Regions from separate parts of the Homo sapiens genome. Here regions 1, 2, 3, 4 and 6 are each reported to be linked to region 5. Evidence: microRNA targets listed by miRTarBase, many of them from high-throughput screens and not tested one by one. Region 5 holds a microRNA gene; each other region holds the end of a gene's coding sequence.
What was found. Region 5 holds the annotated microRNA hsa-miR-7108-3p (ACCCGCCCGUCUCCCCACAG, at 1,511-1,530, opposite strand). A microRNA usually pairs through its seed, bases 2 to 8, with sites in the 3' UTR of a target mRNA and lowers its output. Matches are read on the target gene's strand: a 7mer-m8 pairs with bases 2 to 8, a 7mer-A1 pairs with bases 2 to 7 and ends in A, and an 8mer does both.

Region 1 (3,121 bases), not on the chromosome of region 5:
GGGAAGGCTGCCGTAGAGCTTGGGGTCCGTGAGGGGCTGGAGCAGAAGCAGGAAGAGTCCCACACCCAGGGCATAGCCTGCCAGCAGGGGCCGCCTCTGTGGGTGCTCCAAGGCCGCGCAAACAGCTGGGAAACCCATGTAATTGCAGAAGGAATGGCAGAGAACCGGCCCAATCAGGTGTCCTGGGGAAAAGAGACAGCAGCTCAGGGAGCAGCCCTACCACCTCCTCTGGCCCTTCCAGGGCTAGTGACCCTCATCCCCTGAAACAGGAGATCAAGATCCCACTACCCCAGCCATCCACCCACACACCACGGCCTCTGCTCCTTTCCACCTCTCAGACCTCACCAGGCTGAGGGCTCTGGCTCAGCCTGTCTCAAGGACTGGAGTAGAAGAACTTTTGTTCCTAGAACAAACAGTATTCCCATTCTCCCACCCGCTCCTGTGGGCCCCCAGGGACCCATGAGGGACTGAGGACCAACCTGTGCGGATGAAGAGGAAAGCAGTGTAGGCACCGAAGACAGCTGTGTAGGAGAACTGGAACGCTGGAGACGGGGAGGCCACGAGTGACCACACCTGCACGCCCTTCCTGCCCCCACACTACATACCCATCAGCCAAAGACCGACCATCCCCTCCCCCCGGGGCAGTAGCTGCCTGCCCCACCACCTACAGCTGTCCTGCACCCCAACTTCCCACGGTCAGTGGCCTCTCCAATACTGTGGCCCTCAGTTCCCAATTCCTTCTCCAGAGTGGCCATTAGCGACATCATCATACACCCTAACCCAGGCCAGCTAGCCAGGACTCACCAGCAGACAAGAAGATGTTCCCCACGCTGCTCTGGCGGAAACGCAGCTGCTCAATAATATGGTGAAAATGGGCTGGGAAAAAGGTGACAATCACATCACAGTCATTCCTCCCAGCCTCCCTTCTAGGACTGCCCCTCACCTCAAGCCCCCTTCTGAGCTCTCATGCTGAAAACACACCAGGACTAATCTGGCCAGACTCACCAACTCCAAAAAAGAGCGGGCAGGTGAACACAGCAGGGCCCAGGCCCATGCACGGTGCTAACATGGGCAGCATACAGGCCCGGAACACCAGCTCCTCTGTCAGCGGGGCGATCACTTGGTTCCGCAGCCAACGCATGTCTGTGAGGCAGCGGGCCCAGGAGCGGGGGGCTGCAGAGGGAATTCAGGACAAGCTGTGAGTGACGGGCTGTCAGACAGTGAGACCCCAGAGGCTCCAAGGGCTCCTCTCCCACAACTTTACCCTGGCCAAACTCAGGTTAGGCATCAATACTGCTGAGGACGGGGGTGTGGACCCAACATAAACCCAATGTCTTGAGATGACCTGAATGGAAGGCATTAGCTGAGGCAAGGGCATCCTGGAAGTAAACTCTGGAGACACCAAAATTTAAGCAAGACTAGCTCTGGTTGGGGAAGCAGGGGACAGTGCTCTCTGATCCACACCAAATACTGCTGGGGGTTCCCAGGGAACTCCTTGGACGTTGGCAATCAACCCTTAGAGGCCACCTAGCTCTATGTTTCCATTTTACTGATGAGAAAACACACCCAGAGAGATGACATTTCACGTGTCCAGATCACACCCTGAGCCCGCTGACTCCCTGCCCCAATGTCCTGGACTGCCTGTGCCTACTTTTCCCTTCAGCCTTTAAGACTCACCCAGGACAACCTTCAGCCCATCTGCCAGGTCACAAGGGCAATCCATAGAGAGCTGCATCAGTGGGCCCAGGAAAAGAATCTGAGGGCAAGAAAACACTTTCACCATAACCCACCGCTTTTGCCCAGACCTTTGCCCATGCTCCCTGAGACTCCAAGCTTGAAATCCTCTCCAGCCACGATTTCCAGACCATGCATACCGGAGGACCCTGGGGCCATCTCAAAAGTCCTGTCTCCCATCAACCAAAAACCAAAAACAAGAGTCCACGGCACTGCCCATCAGGCTGATAACAAAGACCAGAAGAAAAAATACAGCAGGAGCACTCACCATGGTCAGCAACAGGGGCAGCAGCGCCGCTGGGAAAATGCCCTCCAGCCTGAAGCCCATCAGGGTGAGCAGGGATGTGCCTGGCTGAGCCACAGGAAAGGGGGCATCAGTTTTGCTTCCTCCCCTAAAGACCCCTGAGCTCTCACCGCCGTTGCCCTTTGCCCCGCCTCCTTCGCACCTGGATGCCTGTGAGTTCCCTCCAGAGCAGCACGCACAGGGGTGAGAGACTGGACACCACCAGGACGCTGGTGAAGCGTCGCTTGATGACCGCGGGATGGTCCCTACGGAGGGGACAGTAAGTTCAGGGGGCCCGCGGCTGCCCATGAGCACGGACCCGCCCCCGGCTCGCCCAAGCTCCGCCCGCAGGGCGCGGATTCCGGTCGCGCGCAGCCCCCGCACCTGGGCAGTTCGCTCTTCCAGACGTAGAGGCTGCCCACGTAGGAGCAGGCGAGGCTGAGGCAGGAGAACACTGACACCCAGCAGCACAGCCCGGGGCCCAGGCCGCCCAGCGCCGCCGACTCGGGCGGCCGCTCCGGCCGCGACACCGACAGCAGTCGCAGCCCATCCCCGCCCAGCGCCGCCATTGCGCCCTGACCCGCGGCGCGCACCAGTGACGCAGTCCCAGGGAGGTGTGGGTGACGTCAGGCCGCGGCGCGGCTCCACGCCCCGCCCCGCCCCGCCCGGGCCCGACGCGGAAGCAGACGCGGAAGAGGACTTGGTGAGCGCGCGGCAGCTTTATTAAACCACGGGATAACGGCTGCCCGCAGCCTCCGGATCGGTGGGCGCTTGCGGAAGGGGACCCGGCTCAGGGCCCAGGGCTGGGACTCAGCCACTCTGACAGGTTGGAGACCTCCTGCAGCCACAGCACGTCCTGCGGGAACAAGGGGGCCCGGGGTGAGGACCTCTCAGCAGCGGCCCGTGGCCTGCACCTCCTGCTGAGCCCTTCCCTGCGCGGCCCTCGCCCAGTTACCTCCAGGCGGCTTCCGAGGCTCGCCCTGCCCGGCGCCAGGGCCCTGCCGTGAGCCTCGCGGTGCTCCCTTCCTCTAGGAGTGAGGGGGGCCGCGGTGGCTTCCGGGCGGCGCGGGGCGGCCTCTGACGGGCTCGGGGCCCTGGCAGAGC
Region 2 (3,110 bases), not on the chromosome of region 5:
TCTGTCTACCTGTTGGGAATGCTCTTCCTCCATGTATGTATCTGCATACTAGTTACTCTTTTCCTTCTTTGCTCAAATGTTACCTCAGGGAGGTCTATCCTGGCTATTCTATTGAAATATGCATATGTCTGTACACACCTAAGCATCTCCTATCCTGTCCTCAATGTTTCCTCCATAGCATTTATCACTATTTAATACAGAAGTTCCCATAGTGTGGTCCCCAGAACTTTCTAGCAAGTTCGCAGGTGATGCTGATGCCGGTCGTCCAGAGACACCTTTGAGAACCGGTTTGAGGAGAATCTCTTTTCTCAGACTTGCAATATTTCTGATTTGGGTAGAGCTAAACCACTCGAACTTTAGGGACCACCTTAAGTGTCTCTTAAAACTCAGAAGGCTGGGACCCATCCCTAGAGTTTCTGATTGGGTAGGACAGGTGGGGCCCAAAATTTGTATTTCTAATCACACTCGGAGAGCCACTGATTAAATGTAATGTATATTTTATTATCTATTTCCTCCCTTTTAGAATGTAAACTCTATGAGGGAGGGACTTTTTTTCCTGCTGTTTCTGCTTTCAAAGAACAATACCAGGCATATAGTAGCCATTCAGTAAATATATATGGAAGGAATAAATGAAAATTGCTAATCCTACTGTTACATCAGAACACATCTCCTAATTTTATTTTAAGATTTTATAGGAAAAAATACAAATACAAAGTTAACAAACATTGTATAGTTCAATCCCCTCATGCAAGAAGGCGTTTTTAAGCACTGGGCCACATAGACAACTGGGATTTCCTGATATTAGGGAAATAAATTATTAACAATTTACATTATTAGAGCATTAGTATTGACACTAAACATTTATGAAATGCTACCATGCGCTAAGCACTTCAGGTACTGTATCTCTTTTAATTCTTGTAACTATTGAGATGGCTAGTGGTGTCATTTCCATTTTACAGAGAAGGGCTCTGTCACACCATGCAGCCCACTACCAGCGGACTCCGTAGTTTCTATATTGTCTCCTTCCCTCTATGTGCTCTCCCAATTGGGAACCAGAAGGTAGGGTATAAAATAGGAGGTGATGCGTTTACTTTTCAGTGTCCAGGCATATCAAGGTTTGAATTAAAATTTGCTGAACATCATGTAACACTAAAGGTCATCCTGGCCATCTTTCTATTCGTAATAACATTCTAAAGAGCATTGGATTTCTAGATGCAAATGTGGAACCCTACAAATGTTCATACCTCTTGTAAAAGATAGGAAAATGTTTTTTAGGAGGCATGTTGTTTGGGGACTTTTTTGTGAGGATTTAGAACAGTTTAGTCAGTCTGAATATTTATTCTACCAAACCCTGTACAATAGCATTACATTTATGCAGAAAATAATGGATATAAATGATTATGAGTTAGTGATTTGTTTTTTCCCAAAAGGCCATTAGACTAGGTGTCTTAACTTTTTCTTAGAGGGCCAAATAGTAAATGTTTTTAGACTTGCAAGCCATACAACTCTGCAGTTGTGGAAAGCAACCACAGACAAAACATAAATGAATGAGTGTAGGCTTGTTTCAAAGAAACTTTATTTACGTAACAGGTGGCCAATCCATGGGCCAAAGCTTGCTGACCCTTGTGTTTAAAGATTCCCATCTTAGTAGCATGAATAAAATGGACCAGATAAATTTCAGTTAACTTTGTCAAATTTATCTTAAAAAACAAAAAACAAAAAACCTGTTTCTTCCTATAGAAACACCCATATTCCTATAAATAAAAATGACTTTTAAAAAAGACAATCCTAGCAGGCAAATAAAAACAGACATTTGTCTTTGTAGTAAGTTGAATTAGCTAAACGAATCCTTGTATTTATTTTTCACACAGCACAAATGCAGGTAGTACACAGTAAGTTCATAATTCCCCACAAAACTTATAAACTTAACAAATGGGAATCTAAACATAATATTCTGAATCACCCATAGCTATCCACTGTGTGGAATCCATTCTACAGCAGCAGAGGAGTACCTTAATTTAAAGCACCAAGTTTCCAGGCATTACTACAAATATCTTCTTTTCATTCTCTAATACATGCAGTCAAACTGCCTATGAAGCAAATACCAATTCATCTTACGCTTTAACAGATAAGGTAAAGCACTTGGGAAATCAACATTATTCTTAAGTCTGAAAGTGATTCTACCTCTTTACCTTATTATATTTTCTCCCATGAAATTTTAAACTTTTAATGGAGTTATATTTAATATGAGAATAAATTAAAATTTGAACTTAATGTCTTTTCAGATTCATCCAGCAGTTTAGAATGTTTATATTTGTTTTATGTCTTGAGGGAAACAAAAACGTAATTTCTAATTTAGAATATTCTGGCTATCTTTATTAAAAGTTACATTTATAATTTTATAGCAAAGTAATATCATCTGTTTGTCCAAACATTACAGATTTTAAAAAATTCCCCTAATGTATGTAAATACAAAGCTTATTCCCAGTACACATTTTATAGAGGTGTGTTTTCATTTTTTGAAGCAGGGTTCAATGGACATTTTTAGGGTCTTGCTAACATCAGCCCTATATACTCAGAGACGATTGAATCTAGTAAATGGACAATGAAAACTGGTTGAGGCTGCTGATGAATGCTTCAATAAAAATCTGATACACACAGATTTCATTGTCATATTCAACAAAACCAAGTCTTCCTTAAAACTGTGATCCTGATAGGCTGAAGATAGAGTAATGGACTGTTAGTTCCTCATGCCAAAAATACATGGGTCTGTCATACAAAGGCTTCATTCTCTGCCTGTCGTCAGTAACTTGAGAGCCTTTTGTAGATTCTGGACAGCAGTGCTTACATCTTCATACTGCAAAGCACTGCCAGCATATTTGCAGTACTTCTGAGCTCTAGCAAAGTCTTCTGGGGTTAGACGAACATCCCCTAGAAGAAAAAGAACAATTGGGATATTTATAAGAATATAAAAAGTGTTCTGTAAGGTTGGGCAAATGCTTATGCTTAAGATTAAAAAACATATTTAAGGCTATGTAAAAACAGTAGTTTTAGTCAATCTCACATGAACTTTGATACATTTTCTTCATTCTTTTCAATTGTCTTTTTAT
Region 3 (3,121 bases), not on the chromosome of region 5:
GTGTGTCTCCAGGGTGACCTCTGTTCACGGTTTTCTTCATGTCTTCATTCCATAAGCATTTTCCTGGCACACCAGTGGCCATCCCCGCTTGCTCTAGGTGCCCTGTGACATCCCAAGCCTCTCGGGGCTGAGGTCAGGTCCAGGCTGCTGCAGCTCCTGCCTCAGGCCCCTCCCCGTGTCTTTCAGATCCTGGGCATGGCCTTCTCCATGACCCTCTTCCAGCACATCCACCGGACTGGTAAGAAGTACGACGCATGAGCGGGCTGGCCGGGAGTGCCCACCCCGCCCTGCTGCCCTGTGGAGGGAAGAGGATTGAGCTTTGTGTCACCTGCCTGCGCTCTCCAGATATGACCCCTGCACCCACCCCCCACAGCCTGCCCTACCCCACCTACCCTGCCTCAGCCTCGGACTTCTCAGTGGGTGGAGTGCCAGGGAGGAGGAGGCACACGGAGACCTGGGGCTCGGGGCCCCTGGATTCCTGCATCTGCATATGCGTATTTGCCAAAGACGACAGGGTGGGCTGGGGTGCGCTCCGGAGGAACCCCCGGCACTGATGGGCTTCTGCCCCTGCCCTTCCTCACACTGACACTTTGTCCCCACATGGGGTGGGGAGCAGAGTGCCCGCCCCGTGGAGATACCGCCCCAGCGGGGGCTGCGACATCCATGGCCACCATGGGGCACCTGGCGGGGCGGGGGTCTGCCGGCCTCTGGGCAAGGCCCCTGGAGCATCTCGCCCAGGCTTTTTATACCTTACAATGTAACTTTTTTATTTTATTTTACTCTATGATTATTCAGGAATATTATCTCTCAGATAAGTTTAGGGTTAGATTTCTGATTTGTAACTTTTTACTGTGTTGATTTCTTTAATGGTTTGACTTTTTTTCCCTGAGGGTGAGGGATGGGTGGGAAGAGAGGACATCTGTCCAGTCTCAATCAGGACAGACCACCGTGCGACACCCAGGAGGCTCTCGGATGGGGCGCGCCTGCGCCCTCAGAACGTGTGGGAAGGAGGGGGCGTGGACAGGACACGGGACCTTGCCAGGCCTGGTGTCTGAGGACAGGAGCCTGGGAGAGGCGGGTGGAGCGTGAAGCAGGCTGGAGGTGCCCCTGCACGGGAGGTGGCGTTTGCTAACCAATCGAGCTGGAAATGCCAGGGCAGGGGGGCCCCACGGTGCTGTGGCAGAGCTAGAGGGGTCCTTAGACTTTTCACTGATGAGCAGTTGTTGGTTTTTTCTTTCTCCCTTCCTCCCGCTCTCTGCTGGCACGCGAGGCTTCCCCTTCCACCCCATGTGGGTATTCCCACAACAGGTTCTGCACACCCCAGTTATTTCACAGACATTCCTGCTAGAAACTGTCAGACAAATACCTCTCTAGTTCGGATGCTGCTCACTTTCCCCCTTGCTTCTGGAAGGGGAAGCAGTCCTTAGGTTTTGCTGTGCTGGGACAGTGGCAGGGGACCCACAGGGGTGAGGACCCACGGTCCTCCCCGCCAGCCTTGCTCAGCTGTGGGTTGCCCTGCTGGGAAGGAGGGAATCACGTCCACCTGGGTCCCAAGATCTTCGCCTCCTTCCCTGGGGCCACGGACATCAGCAGTGGGTTGGGTGGCGATTATATCATCTGTGATCCCAAGGAGAAGAAATACAGAAAACCCAAGAGAGGTCAGACTGGCTCTTGTTACCGGAGCCACGGGAAGAAAGCAGCCGGAGTCACGCACGTGCAGAGCTGGGCATGGGAGAGAAACGGGCTGGGGAGTGAGGCCAGGAGTGGGATTCAGCTGCAGCAGGGCGCCCCCTCCAAACTGCAGCTGGTCTGGCTTACTGTTTTGCCGTTCAAAAAGGTCGCGAATCCGTGGGACTGAGCACGGGGACCTCACCCGCTAGCCAGCGTCTGCTGCACTTGATCAGGTGGGGCCTTGGTGGGCGGCTGCCTTTCCTATACAGTTTGTCTTGTCACCCTGGTTTCCCACTGGGGCCAGGTCTCTTCTCCAGCCTCCACCTGCCTGTCTGATCCAAGAGCTGAGACACGGCCACCCAGCACCAGTCACTCCTCTGTTCACCTTAAGTAACACACAAATCGGGAACAGGAGGACAGAACCGTTGGCATTATCAGGATTCGTGTTTTGTGGGGGTGGGAGTGGAGAGTAGGGTGGTCTTGTGAGTTGTGCAGGGTGAAGACCGCTTCCCTGAGACAGGGGCAGTGGTGCTGATGGAATGTGGGGGAGGCCCACATTTGAGCAAAGCTGCCCTGCCCTTGTCCCCTGGCCTGGCTTCCTGGTAAGGAGTTTCAGCCGCCTCCGCAGGAACCCCCAAAGTGCAGATTCCGGAGCAGACACATCCGGGCGGAGAGACTCAGCAGACAAGTGCTGCAGTTGCACGGTGGGACCCGGGGCCTCGTGCGTTTTTTGCTGTGGGTGGGGTGGGTGGGTTGGTTTATGCCTATCAATGCAATTTTTAATTTTTGTTAATATCAACAGCAAAAGCCTAGTGCATTGGGAGATGTGCAACCTCCCTGAAAATCTTTTCTGTTTCTGGAGTACTTCAGGGGTGGCCTCTGGCCCCAGAGCCTTTGCCACAGTGCTCCCACCAGCCCCCACCTCATCCGTCTGTTTGCAGAGCCTCATCTACAGGTCCCCACGCTGCCTTCTTTACTCACTCTGCGCTTGGCCGTTTTGTTATTTGGCTTAGTCTACATTGGGCGGAAGTCTGTGTGCACAGAGTGGGTGTTCCTTCGAGCCCCTTCCACTCAGAGGGCCACACCCAGCGATGCCAGTGAAGGTGGCACAGCCTCTCTTCAGTTTCTCCTGACTGTGATCTCACTGGGGTAGAATTCCCCTGAGAGAATTCCCTCACTCACGGCTCCCTTTGCCAGAGTCAGTTCAATCAGGTCTGATGTGAGCAATTTACACACTTGTCTCAGAAAGTCCCTCAGGGTTTGTAGAGGACTGCAGGGGGGCATCCGCTGCAGACTCAGCCTTTCTCTGCAGCCATCCTGCAGTGGGGGTGAGCGGGCACAGGCTGAGAACTGCTCTTGGGTGGTGGAAGCAGGTGTCACGGTGCAAGTCTCCCCCTGCACCCCTCCCCCAGCTTGAGCCGTGTCACCCCCCTCTCCCTCCAGCATGGGC
Region 4 (3,121 bases), not on the chromosome of region 5:
GGCAACATCTCCATACACATGTGTCTGGATCCCTGCCATTCGGTGTCCCTGCTTCCATTCTGGAAAGTAATGACCTTGGTGAAGTGCATCCCCTTAATGAAAACAGCGAGGCCCTTGAATGCCGCAGGCTCAGCTCCTTCATTGTTAAGGAGAATGAACAGCAGCCAGACCACACCAACCGGGGTACCACAGAGCCTTTGCAGATCAGTCAAGTATCTTTGATCTCCAAAGACACAGAGCCAGTAGAATTAAACTGTAATTTTTCTTTTTCAAGGAAAAGAAAAATGAGCTGTACCATCTGTGGTCATAAATTCCCTCGAAAGAGCCAATTGTTGGAACACATGTATACACACAAAGGTAAATCTTACAGATATAACCGATGCCAAAGGTTTGGTAATGCATTGGCCCAGAGATTTCAGCCATACTGTGACAGCTGGTCTGATGTCTCCCTGAAAAGTTCTCGCTTGTCACAAGAACACTTAGACTTGCCTTGTGCCTTAGAGTCAGAGCTCACACAAGAAAATGTGGATACTATCCTAGTTGAGTAGCAGCTTCTCTTTCAGAATTTTTATACCAATTCTGAAAAAGAAAATTTGCGTGGCATTTTTAATTCATAAATTATTTTCCTCCTCAAGTTTCATTGACTTTTTTTCTTCACAGCTTATCCATGGTTTTAAGGTTGTATATATTAGATCTTCTCATAAGACATATTAATATGTGGCTATTAAAATGTAACATTCAATTACTACTGTGAACTTTTCACAAACGAAATAACAATTTAGAAATCAGAAATCAATGTAGAAATATGGAAACCTTAAATAGTTATTTATAGAATTCTAAGTTTTTCCAGTTATAGAATCAGTAAAATCAAATTGAATATAAAGTAAATGAAATCTGTTTTAAAGCATATTCTAAACTATCACTTCTGCCTACATTTCACATGAATTCACTCCTACCAGGATTATTTTTAAATATTTTCTTCCATATAGGAAATTAATAGTTACTTTAATGCATAACTGTATGTTATACATATGTTATAATGTATAAAAATTTATTTTAAGATATACCAAATCATGAGTAGTTTTATTTTTTAACTACTAGCTCCACAACATCTTACCTACATGGCTTCTCTTTACTTTTTAACATTGAGTATACCTCTTTTTTTTTTTGAGACAGAGTCTCTCTGTGTCGCCCAGGCTGGGGCGCAGTGGCGCGATCTCGGCTGACTGCAAGCTCCGCCTCCCGGGTTCACGCCATTCTCCTGCCTCAGCCTCCTGAGCAGCTGGGACTACAGGCGCCCGCCACCACGCCCAGCTAATTTTTTTGTATTTTTTTAGTAGAGACGGGGTTTCACCGTGTTAGCCAGGATGGTCTCGATCTCCTGACCTCGTCATCTGCCCGCCTTGGCCTCCCAAAGTGCTGGGATTACAGATGTGGTATATCTCATTTTTAATAAAAAAAACAGTTAAAGGGAGAAGAGTCAGAGAGACATTAAAAAATATTTAAGAAACAGTAAGATATACACACATAGATAAATAAGCATGCAGAGACAGAGACTGAGCTAGAACTGCATTGACTAAAAACCCCAGGGTTGTTAACTTGGTCTAGAGTGTTTTCTTAGACACCTTAAAAAGTAATTTGAGATTTTATGACCAGAGGTTTACATGAGTTGAAAGAGAATGATGATAAAATATAAATCATGTTTCTACCCTCAGCGTCAGGATTTTTGGGGCTTCCTGGGTTGATTTTAATTTTCTAAAAATCACTGAAAAAGTAATTTTTCAGTGGCACAGTTTTCACTTTTTTCCTGATCCATAAAACCAGCAAAGTGGATACATTCAGTGTTCTATAACTACATTTAAGATCCATGATGTTAGCTTTTCCTCTATAAATCAACTTAACTCTCTTTTATAATGGTGACACTTACAAAGCTAAAACCCCAGGAAAATTAAAGTTGATGAAAGAAATAACAGATTCCCCGGCTCTATATACCTGGGAAATAGCTGGTTAAGCTTCACCACAAAGGATAGATCTAAATTGTTTCTGAAATGTTTAAATTTCAAACCCCGCATAGTCAAGGATAATAAAACAGACTCATCTTTTTTTGCCCTCTTGTTAAATTCTAAGCTTCACGGGCATTTGAATACATCTAAAAAATTTGGTTTGTGAGCCTTAGAATTTAACCACTTACAAAACTCTTGAGCTCCCTCCACTTCTGAGGACGTTTCCTGACACATTCAACAGCATCAGCGTCCAATCAGGAGGGAGCTCAAAGAGTAATCCAGCTAATTCTAAGGACACAAAGGTTTTCTCTAGGTAAACAGTTTAGGTAAATTACAAAGTGGTAAGTTTTTCTTGAGGATTGAATGAAGAAAGCTACTGGATATTGTGTAAGGCAGTTGAGTTTCTGCCTTAAACAAGTGAGTAAAGGCTCCTATGGTTAAGACTGATGTGTGTTGAGAGCACATCTAACTTGATAAGATCAATTGTATTGGGAGTAATTAAAACAAATGTATGTTCTTTGGGGTCAGAACTTTGTCTAATCTTAAACTTTTTTCTACCAATTCACTTAAGCAACTATTGAAATTTGTACTGCCCTCAAAAATATCATCTCATTGGAAGAACACAAGTATTAACATTGATTTTTTGTATTTTAGGCTAGTTAAGATATATTTCCTAGCCTTCTTCAATTCAAATTCTATTGTTCTTATTAAGATAATTTTTCTCCTCTATATTCTTCCCTGTTTGCCTACTCATTATTATTATTTTTTTAATTTAATTTTTTTTTAAGATGGAGTTTCACCCTTGTTGCCCAGGCTGGAGTGCAATGGCGTGATCTCGGCTCACTGCAATCTCTGCTGCCTGGGTTCAAGCGATTCTCCTGCCTTAGCCTCCCAAGTAGCTTGGGATTACAGGCATGCACCACCATACCCAGCTAATTTTGTGTTTTTAGCAGAGACAGGGTTTCACCATCTTGGTCAGGCTGGTCTGGAACTCCTGACCTCAGGTCATGCACCAGCCTCGGCCTCCCATAGTGCTGGGATTACAGGTGTGAGCCACCGTGCCAGGCCCACTCATTATTCTTTGACACAGGAAATCCTTGTATATAGCTAAAGGGTGG
Region 5 (3,000 bases):
ACCTTGTCCCCTGCCTCGCATTGGCCGACAGCCCCGTCACCCTGACCCTGGTCACCCCCATCAGCTGGGTCACCCCGTTACCCCCATGCCCCGGTCATTCCGGTCACCTTGTCCCCTGCCTCGCATTGGCCGACGGCCCCGTCACCCTGACCCTGGTCACCCCCATCAGCTGGGTCACCCCGTTACCCCCATGCCCCGGTCATTCCGGTCACCTTGTCCCCTGCCTCGTATTGGCCGGCGGCCCCGTCACCCTGACCCTGATCACCCCCATCAGCTGGGTCACCCCGTTACCCCCATGCCCCGGTCATTCCGGTCACCTTGTCCCCTGCCTCGCATTGGCCGGCAGCCCCGTCACCCTGACCCTGGTCACCCCCATCAGCTGGGTCACCCCGTTACCCCCATGCCCCGGTCTTTCCGGTCACCTTGTCCGAGTTGTTCTTGAGCTGCACAAACTTGCCCTCCAGGTCGATCTCCTCGATGCTGACGCTACCCGAGGCCGAGGCCTGCTGGGCCAGGTGGAAGCCACCGCTGCCACCCGTGCCCGTGCCCAGGACGCTTGGGCCGCTGCCCAAGGGCTCCTCCACCTCCAGCCGCTTCCGCTTACTGCGGCCCAGGCGCCCGGTGGCGGACAAGCTGCCGCTGCTGCTCGAGGTGGCTCGTGAGACGGTGACGCGCGAGGATGGGCTGGGGGACAGCTTCAGCCTGTGGGGAAGGCAAGGAAGGTGGGACTGGTAGTGGGAGCCCCAGACAGCCCAGGGCACGCAGAGTGGCGGCCACGGCCCGGCCCCACCTCCACCCCTGCCCAGCACTCCCCGCAGCCCCGTCCCGCCTCTCCTCCTGCCCTGCCCCTCCTCCTCACTCTGTGCTCCCAAGCCTCCTGGCCTGCCGCACCTCTCCTCCTCGCCCTCCAGGAGCTTCCGGTAGGCGTTGATCTCCATGTCCAGGGCCAGCTTCACGTCCAGCAGCTCCTGGTACTCGGCCAGCTGCTGCTGCATCACGTCCCGCATCTCCGTCATCTCCTGCTCCTTGGCGTCCAGCATCTTCCGGAACTTGTCCCGCTCCCCGGCCATGGCCTCCTCCAGCTCCCGAATGCGATCTTCAGCGGCACTGGCCTGCGGAGGGGGCGGGTGGCGAAGGTCAGGGCAGCCCATGGGTCACAAGGCCCAGGTGATCCTGGGACTGCGGGAGATGGGCCCTCACCACAGACTGGGGCAGAGACCAGGCCTGGGCATGGGGCGCACGGGAGGGGAGGGAAGGGGCATCGCTGGGCGCCCCGAGGGCTGCATCCGATGCCAAGAGGCCAGAGCCCCACGCCCCGCACATCCAGGGCAGGGCCCAGAAGTTGGGCCAGGGGGACGGCAGACGGTGGCGCTGTGCTCATCACCTGCTTCTGGAGGCCGGAGAGCTGGTAGCTGAGGGACTCCAGGCGCATGCGGGCCTCCTTCAGCTCCTCGCGAGCCGCACTGGCCGCCTTGTCGTTCTGGTCAGAGCTCAGCTTGGCGCTGTCCAGCTGTGGGGAGACGGGCGGGTGAGTGCGGGCGCGGGGCGGGGCGGGGTTCCCACCGGCCGCCCCCGCCCACCCGCCTGCCGGCCACACCTTGGCCTGGTAGGTCTGCTCCAGCTCCAGCTTGTAGAGCCGCACTTGCTCGTCGTGCTGGCTCCGCAGCTCCTCCAGCGCCTGTGCCATCTTGAAGTCGTACTCCTGCTGCCGGCTGCTGTCCACCTCCACCAGGCGCCGCTCGTGCCGCCGCCGCGTCTCCCGCACCTCCTGCGGACCAAGGCTTCGTGACCCTCTGGTCCCGCCTGGGCCCCAAGCACCAGGCCCAAGGGAGGGCTCAAAAATGTGCCAAGAGGAACCTCCAGGCAATTCCTGGTTCCTTGTGCACAAGTTACAAACCGATACACGTGCAGGTGAGAGGCGACCCAGGGGCCGTCCACGCGCTAGAACGTGACTCAGCCACGAAAAGGAGCGAGGCTCTGACACCGCCACAGCATGGATGCACCTTGAGGACGTCACACTCAATGAGAGACGCCAGACACAAAAGGCCACACGGTGCGTGATCCCATTTCCATGAAATGTCCTGAAATGTCCAGGACAGGCCCATCCACAGAGACAGGGAGGGGATGCGTGGGGGCCAGGGCTGGGGACTGCTGATGGGGAGGGGGTTCTTTTTGGGTGATGGAATGTTCTAGAATTAGAGGTGGTGGTTGCACAACCCTGTGGAGATCCTGCCAATGCTGAACTGTACACTTTAAAAAGGTGGACTTAAAATAGCCAGGTGTGGTGGCGGGCACCTGTGGTCCCAGCTACTCAGGAGGCTGAGACAAGAGAATCGCTTGACCTTGGGAGGTTGCAGTGAGCCAGGATCGCACCATTGCACTCCAACCTGGGTAACAAAGTGAGACTGCGTCTCAAAAAAAAAAAAAGTGACTCTCTCTTATAAAAGCCATTATTGAAGAAAGCGGGCCAGGCGTGGTGGCTCATGCCTGTAATCCCAGCACTTTGGGAGGCTGAGGCAGGCAGATCACGAGGTCAGGAGTTCGAGACCAGCCTAGCCAACATGGTGAAACCCCATCTCTATTAAAAATACAAAAATTAGGCCGGGCACAGTGGCTCAAGCCTGTAATCCCAGCACTTTGGGAGGCTAAGACAGGTGGATCATGAGGTCAGAAGTTCAAGACCAGCCTGACAAACATGGTGAAAACCCCGTCTGTACTAAAAATACAAAAATTAGTCGGGTTGGTGGCACCCGCCTATAATCCCAGCTACTCAGGAGGCTGAGGCAGGAGAATCGCTTGAACCCAGGAGGCGGAGGTTGCAGTGAGCTGAGATCATGCCACCGTACTCCAGCCTGGGTGACAGAGCAAGACTCCGTCTCAAAAGAAAAAAATTAGCTGGGTGTGGTGCTGTGCACCTATAATCCCAGCTACTCGGGAGGCTGGGCCCAGTGTGGGCAACAGAGCAAGACTCCATCTCAAAAACAAAACAAAACAAAACAA
Region 6 (3,098 bases), not on the chromosome of region 5:
AGCACAACAGGCGAGAGAAAGAGCAGAAAGGCGACTGGGAAGCCAAAGGCCTCCGAGGCTGCTGCAGTTTGGCCAGCAGGAGGAGGAGGAAGAGTGTGGGCAGCTAGCGGGGAGGAGGAGGTCACATCACAGCCATGGGAAGGACGTTCCCAGGCAGAGCCACACTTTTTCTAGCCCTAAGTTCCAAAGCGAGCATCATCTCCTGTGGGTCTGGCTGCTCTTTAATTGCATTTGCACCACTGCCTGGTTTTTGTGAAGCCCTCAGCCTGGTTTCTTGTAGGCCTTTGTAGTGGAGGGGAGAGGGGCCCAGACGGTGGCTGCCCCAGGATGGCTGTAGAGCCGAATACTGAGACCCTTTCCCCTGACCTTCTCCCCAACAGAAATGCCTGGAGTTGAAGACAAGCCTGCTGGCCCGCCAGAGGGGCACCCAGTCATCCCTGGACCGCCTGCGGGCCCTCCTGAGACTGATACAGGGCGAGCAGCTGCTCCAGGTCACCATGACGACCACTAGCCCTGCCCCACTGCTGGCCGGGCCCTGGACCAAGCCCTCAGTGGCAGCCACACACCCCACCGTCCAGCACCCCCAGGGCCACAACTGACCCCGAGGGACCAGTCTTCATACCCACGGAAAGTTATTGGGACCCTGCTTACACAGCCTGGGGGTTCTGTCGGCCTTAATTCATAAACACTATGAATTTCAGACAAAAATTAACCAGACAGAGGAGAGGAGGGAGGAAGAGCTGGGCGAGAGGCCTAGAGCCAGGACCAGGTGGGGGTGCGGCCCTGTGCCCTCCAAATTCACAGGGGGTACCTAGGAGCCAGGTGGGGTACGACAGGCTGGGGCACACAGTCTCCCCCCGGCCACCTCGGGGCTGCCTGGGCCTCTGGCTTCCAGGCCCTGCTCTCCACGGCCTCCCTCTGGCCCGTTGGAGGGGCAGGCTGAGGCTGTGGAGGGGACAAGCACGCCCCCCAGAACGCAGTCTCCACTGAGGGCACCGCCTATTGGTGTCCTGTGGGAGGGCGAGCTGAGAACACATGGACTAGCTGAGTGGTAGCGGTAGTTGGGACGAGAAGCGGGGTAGTGGATCTAGGTAGTTCCTCAATGCCCCACGCTCCTAGGAGGTCCCCCTGGGGTGGGCGGGCGGGCCTGGGGCACTCCGTCGCCTTTGCAGAACCACCTGGGCCCCTTTCTGTCAGTATTATTAGGGTTACGAATTGCAGCTGTTTAACTTGAAAGACACTGTCGGAGGTGAGCATCTGGGCGCCGGGACGCTGCAGTGATCCCCGCCAGAGCCTGTGCCCTTCCTGCTCCGTCTTTGGGGTCCTCAAGGCTGCCTCCTTCCTTTTGCCAATCTCTTGGACTCAGTTTGCCGTTGATGCGTTTTTCTCATGGAGTTTCTGGGCAGAGTGGAGCTGCAACCCTGTTGTGGGGGGCAGCATTTGGCAGGTTTTCTCCTTGGGGTTGAATCATTCAACTTAACGACTGAAGCCCTTTCTTGTCTCCTTTGGAAGAGCCGATAAGTATTCCACTCCTCCCTTCTTGCCAGTGCAGACACTATGCCAAAAAATAACTTCACACTTTTGTATGGCGTTTTTATTGTGAGATATTTAATGTGAATGGTTGGGGGGACTCTGGCTGACTTCCTTTCTGCTTCTAGTAGTCTCTGCTTCAAGGTACAAATGGGAACACCTCCCCTCGGGAAGCCTGGCCAAGCTGGAAGATCCGGCAGGTTTTTTACGAGCCGGGTGGAGGGTTGGGGAGGAAAGAAAGGGCGGTGGCTCGGGAGGTTCCGGCCTTCGGGGACCAGACTTGCTGCCAAGGGCTTCTGCATCCAGGGTGGGCAGTGGCAGCTTGTCACCCTTGCCCGATTCCCACATCCCAGTCCTGAGGGACTCAGCACAACAGGATAAGCGTCCAGGAGCCACGGGCTCCCACCCCGAGCATATCACATGGTGCCGAATTGCACTGAACACGCGTGTGTGCATCGCACGCGGCCACGACCACAGACACGCATGCACACACGCAGAGGTGCAGAGCGAGGAGGCCGGCAAATCCCGCAGCTGCCACGGTCCCTCCTGTCATTCTCACGACTCCGGGAGAAACTGTGCTGTATGATACAGATCTATTTTAATACACTTACCACTGGGTGAACAAGATTTTTATATTCTTTTATTGATGAACAAAGTGAACCGTGTGAGGCACACGTCTTCTATATTGGCTACTCTGTGCCAAGTATGCATTACCGCGTGGCTTGCGATGTCCATGTCTTCAGCTTCCTTTTCTGTTGGTTTGGTTTTCTTCGCGGATGGATTGAGTTACATGTTTTAACAGTGTAATGGGAGGATCTGAAAGGTTGGACCCGGGAGGGGTAGCTGCCGATGTGTCTTGAGATTGTTAGGTTTTTTTTGGACCAAGGAGGACCGTCCAGTGGGTAGTGAGGATAGAGAAAAAGTGTTTGTCTTAAATACGCCAATGTAGTTTTCCTTCTTTACAATGTATTAAACTCGATCGATGATTTCAAAGCCCTGTGGTTTTGGTGTCCTTGCGTTGCGGAGAGGCCCCCGGGAGTGCCCAGGGCAGCCAGGTGGGCGTTGGAGGGGCTGGAAATCAGGGTCTTCTCCCATCCTGAGGAGGGAGGGATGGAGGGAGGGAAACAGGGAGAGAGCTCAGTGCCCTCCACTCACTCACCCCCGATTCCCAGTCCTCAGAGGCGGCGGGTGACCCTTTAGGGCTAGGATTGAGGGTGGAAAGTCTTGGAAACCCAGCAGGTCTGTCACTGTGCAGAGCCCAAGGTGGTGCCCTCTGCTCCCTCATGGGTTCCTGCCTCTCAGCCTGGCAACATCACCGCTGTCTCTCTCCCCCAGCAGCGGGTACAGGCGCTCCTGCAGCCACGCTGAGCTTACACCTTGCCCTACAAGAGGTGGGGAATCAGCCCCCCTGAGTCCTAGCTCCTGGCATTGCACGGGGGACTCTGATTGGCCAAGTGGGTCGGGGCCGACCCCTGGGCAGTTAGCTGTGGCCAGAGGCTGGGGTCTAATGCCAAAGTGGGGTCCGGTGCCCCAGGGGACAGAGAGGTGGAGGGCATGCAGGGCTGCCA

Region 1: miRTarBase lists TOP6BL as a target of hsa-miR-7108-3p. Seed matches in the 3' UTR shown: 7mer-m8 at 2,678-2,684, 7mer-m8 at 2,673-2,679, 7mer-m8 at 2,668-2,674 and 7mer-m8 at 2,569-2,575.
Region 2: miRTarBase lists VTA1 as a target of hsa-miR-7108-3p. The part of its 3' UTR that is shown has no 7-base or 8-base seed match.
Region 3: the mRNA of TSPAN9 is a reported target of hsa-miR-7108-3p. Seed matches in the 3' UTR shown: 7mer-m8 at 688-694.
Region 4: the mRNA of ZBTB25 is a reported target of hsa-miR-7108-3p. The part of its 3' UTR that is shown has no 7-base or 8-base seed match.
Region 6: miRTarBase lists PHF21B as a target of hsa-miR-7108-3p. Seed matches in the 3' UTR shown: 7mer-m8 at 1,136-1,142 and 7mer-m8 at 1,140-1,146.

The regions. Positions count from the first base shown.
Region 1 is chr11:66,842,921-66,846,041 of GRCh38, reverse strand. TOP6BL (TOP6B like initiator of meiotic double strand breaks) reads right to left here. Exons shown (of 15, transcript NM_001302084.2): 14 at 2,973-3,121; 15 at 2,526-2,873. The coding sequence ends at 2,808. It overlaps RCE1 (Ras converting CAAX endopeptidase 1), which reads right to left and starts at 2,601. Exons shown (of 8, transcript NM_005133.3): 1 at 2,402-2,601; 2 at 2,181-2,283; 3 at 2,003-2,086; 4 at 1,678-1,756; 5 at 1,006-1,173; 6 at 805-876; 7 at 480-542; 8 at 1-182. The coding sequence starts at 2,586. RefSeq lists an enhancer at 2,024-2,730 and silencers at 2,371-2,810, 2,921-3,060.
Region 2 is chr6:142,218,319-142,221,428 of GRCh38, reverse strand. It overlaps VTA1 (vesicle trafficking 1), which reads right to left. Exons shown (of 8, transcript NM_016485.5): 8 at 1-2,931. The coding sequence ends at 2,786. Among named protein-coding and RNA genes, the nearest start is that of LINC02919, 40 kb to the left of the region's middle.
Region 3 is chr12:3,282,859-3,285,979 of GRCh38, forward strand. It overlaps TSPAN9 (tetraspanin 9), which reads left to right. Exons shown (of 9, transcript NM_006675.5): 9 at 187-3,121. The coding sequence ends at 258. Among named protein-coding and RNA genes, the nearest start is that of LINC02827, 16 kb to the right of the region's middle. RefSeq lists enhancers at 1,368-1,868, 1,869-2,369.
Region 4 is chr14:64,484,350-64,487,470 of GRCh38, reverse strand. ZBTB25 (zinc finger and BTB domain containing 25) reads left to right here. Exons shown (of 3, transcript NM_006977.5): 3 at 1-3,121. The coding sequence ends at 548. Among named protein-coding and RNA genes, the nearest start is that of ZBTB25, 18 kb to the left of the region's middle.
Region 5 is chr19:2,433,404-2,436,403 of GRCh38, forward strand. MIR7108 (microRNA 7108) reads right to left here and starts at 1,597; the gene lies at 1,511-1,597. It overlaps LMNB2 (lamin B2), which reads right to left. Exons shown (of 12, transcript NM_032737.4): 5 at 1,598-1,768; 6 at 1,385-1,510; 7 at 892-1,112; 8 at 423-702. RefSeq lists an enhancer at 181-869.
Region 6 is chr22:44,880,587-44,883,684 of GRCh38, reverse strand. It overlaps PHF21B (PHD finger protein 21B), which reads left to right. Exons shown (of 13, transcript NM_138415.5): 13 at 381-2,523. The coding sequence ends at 599. Among named protein-coding and RNA genes, the nearest start is that of PHF21B, 130 kb to the left of the region's middle.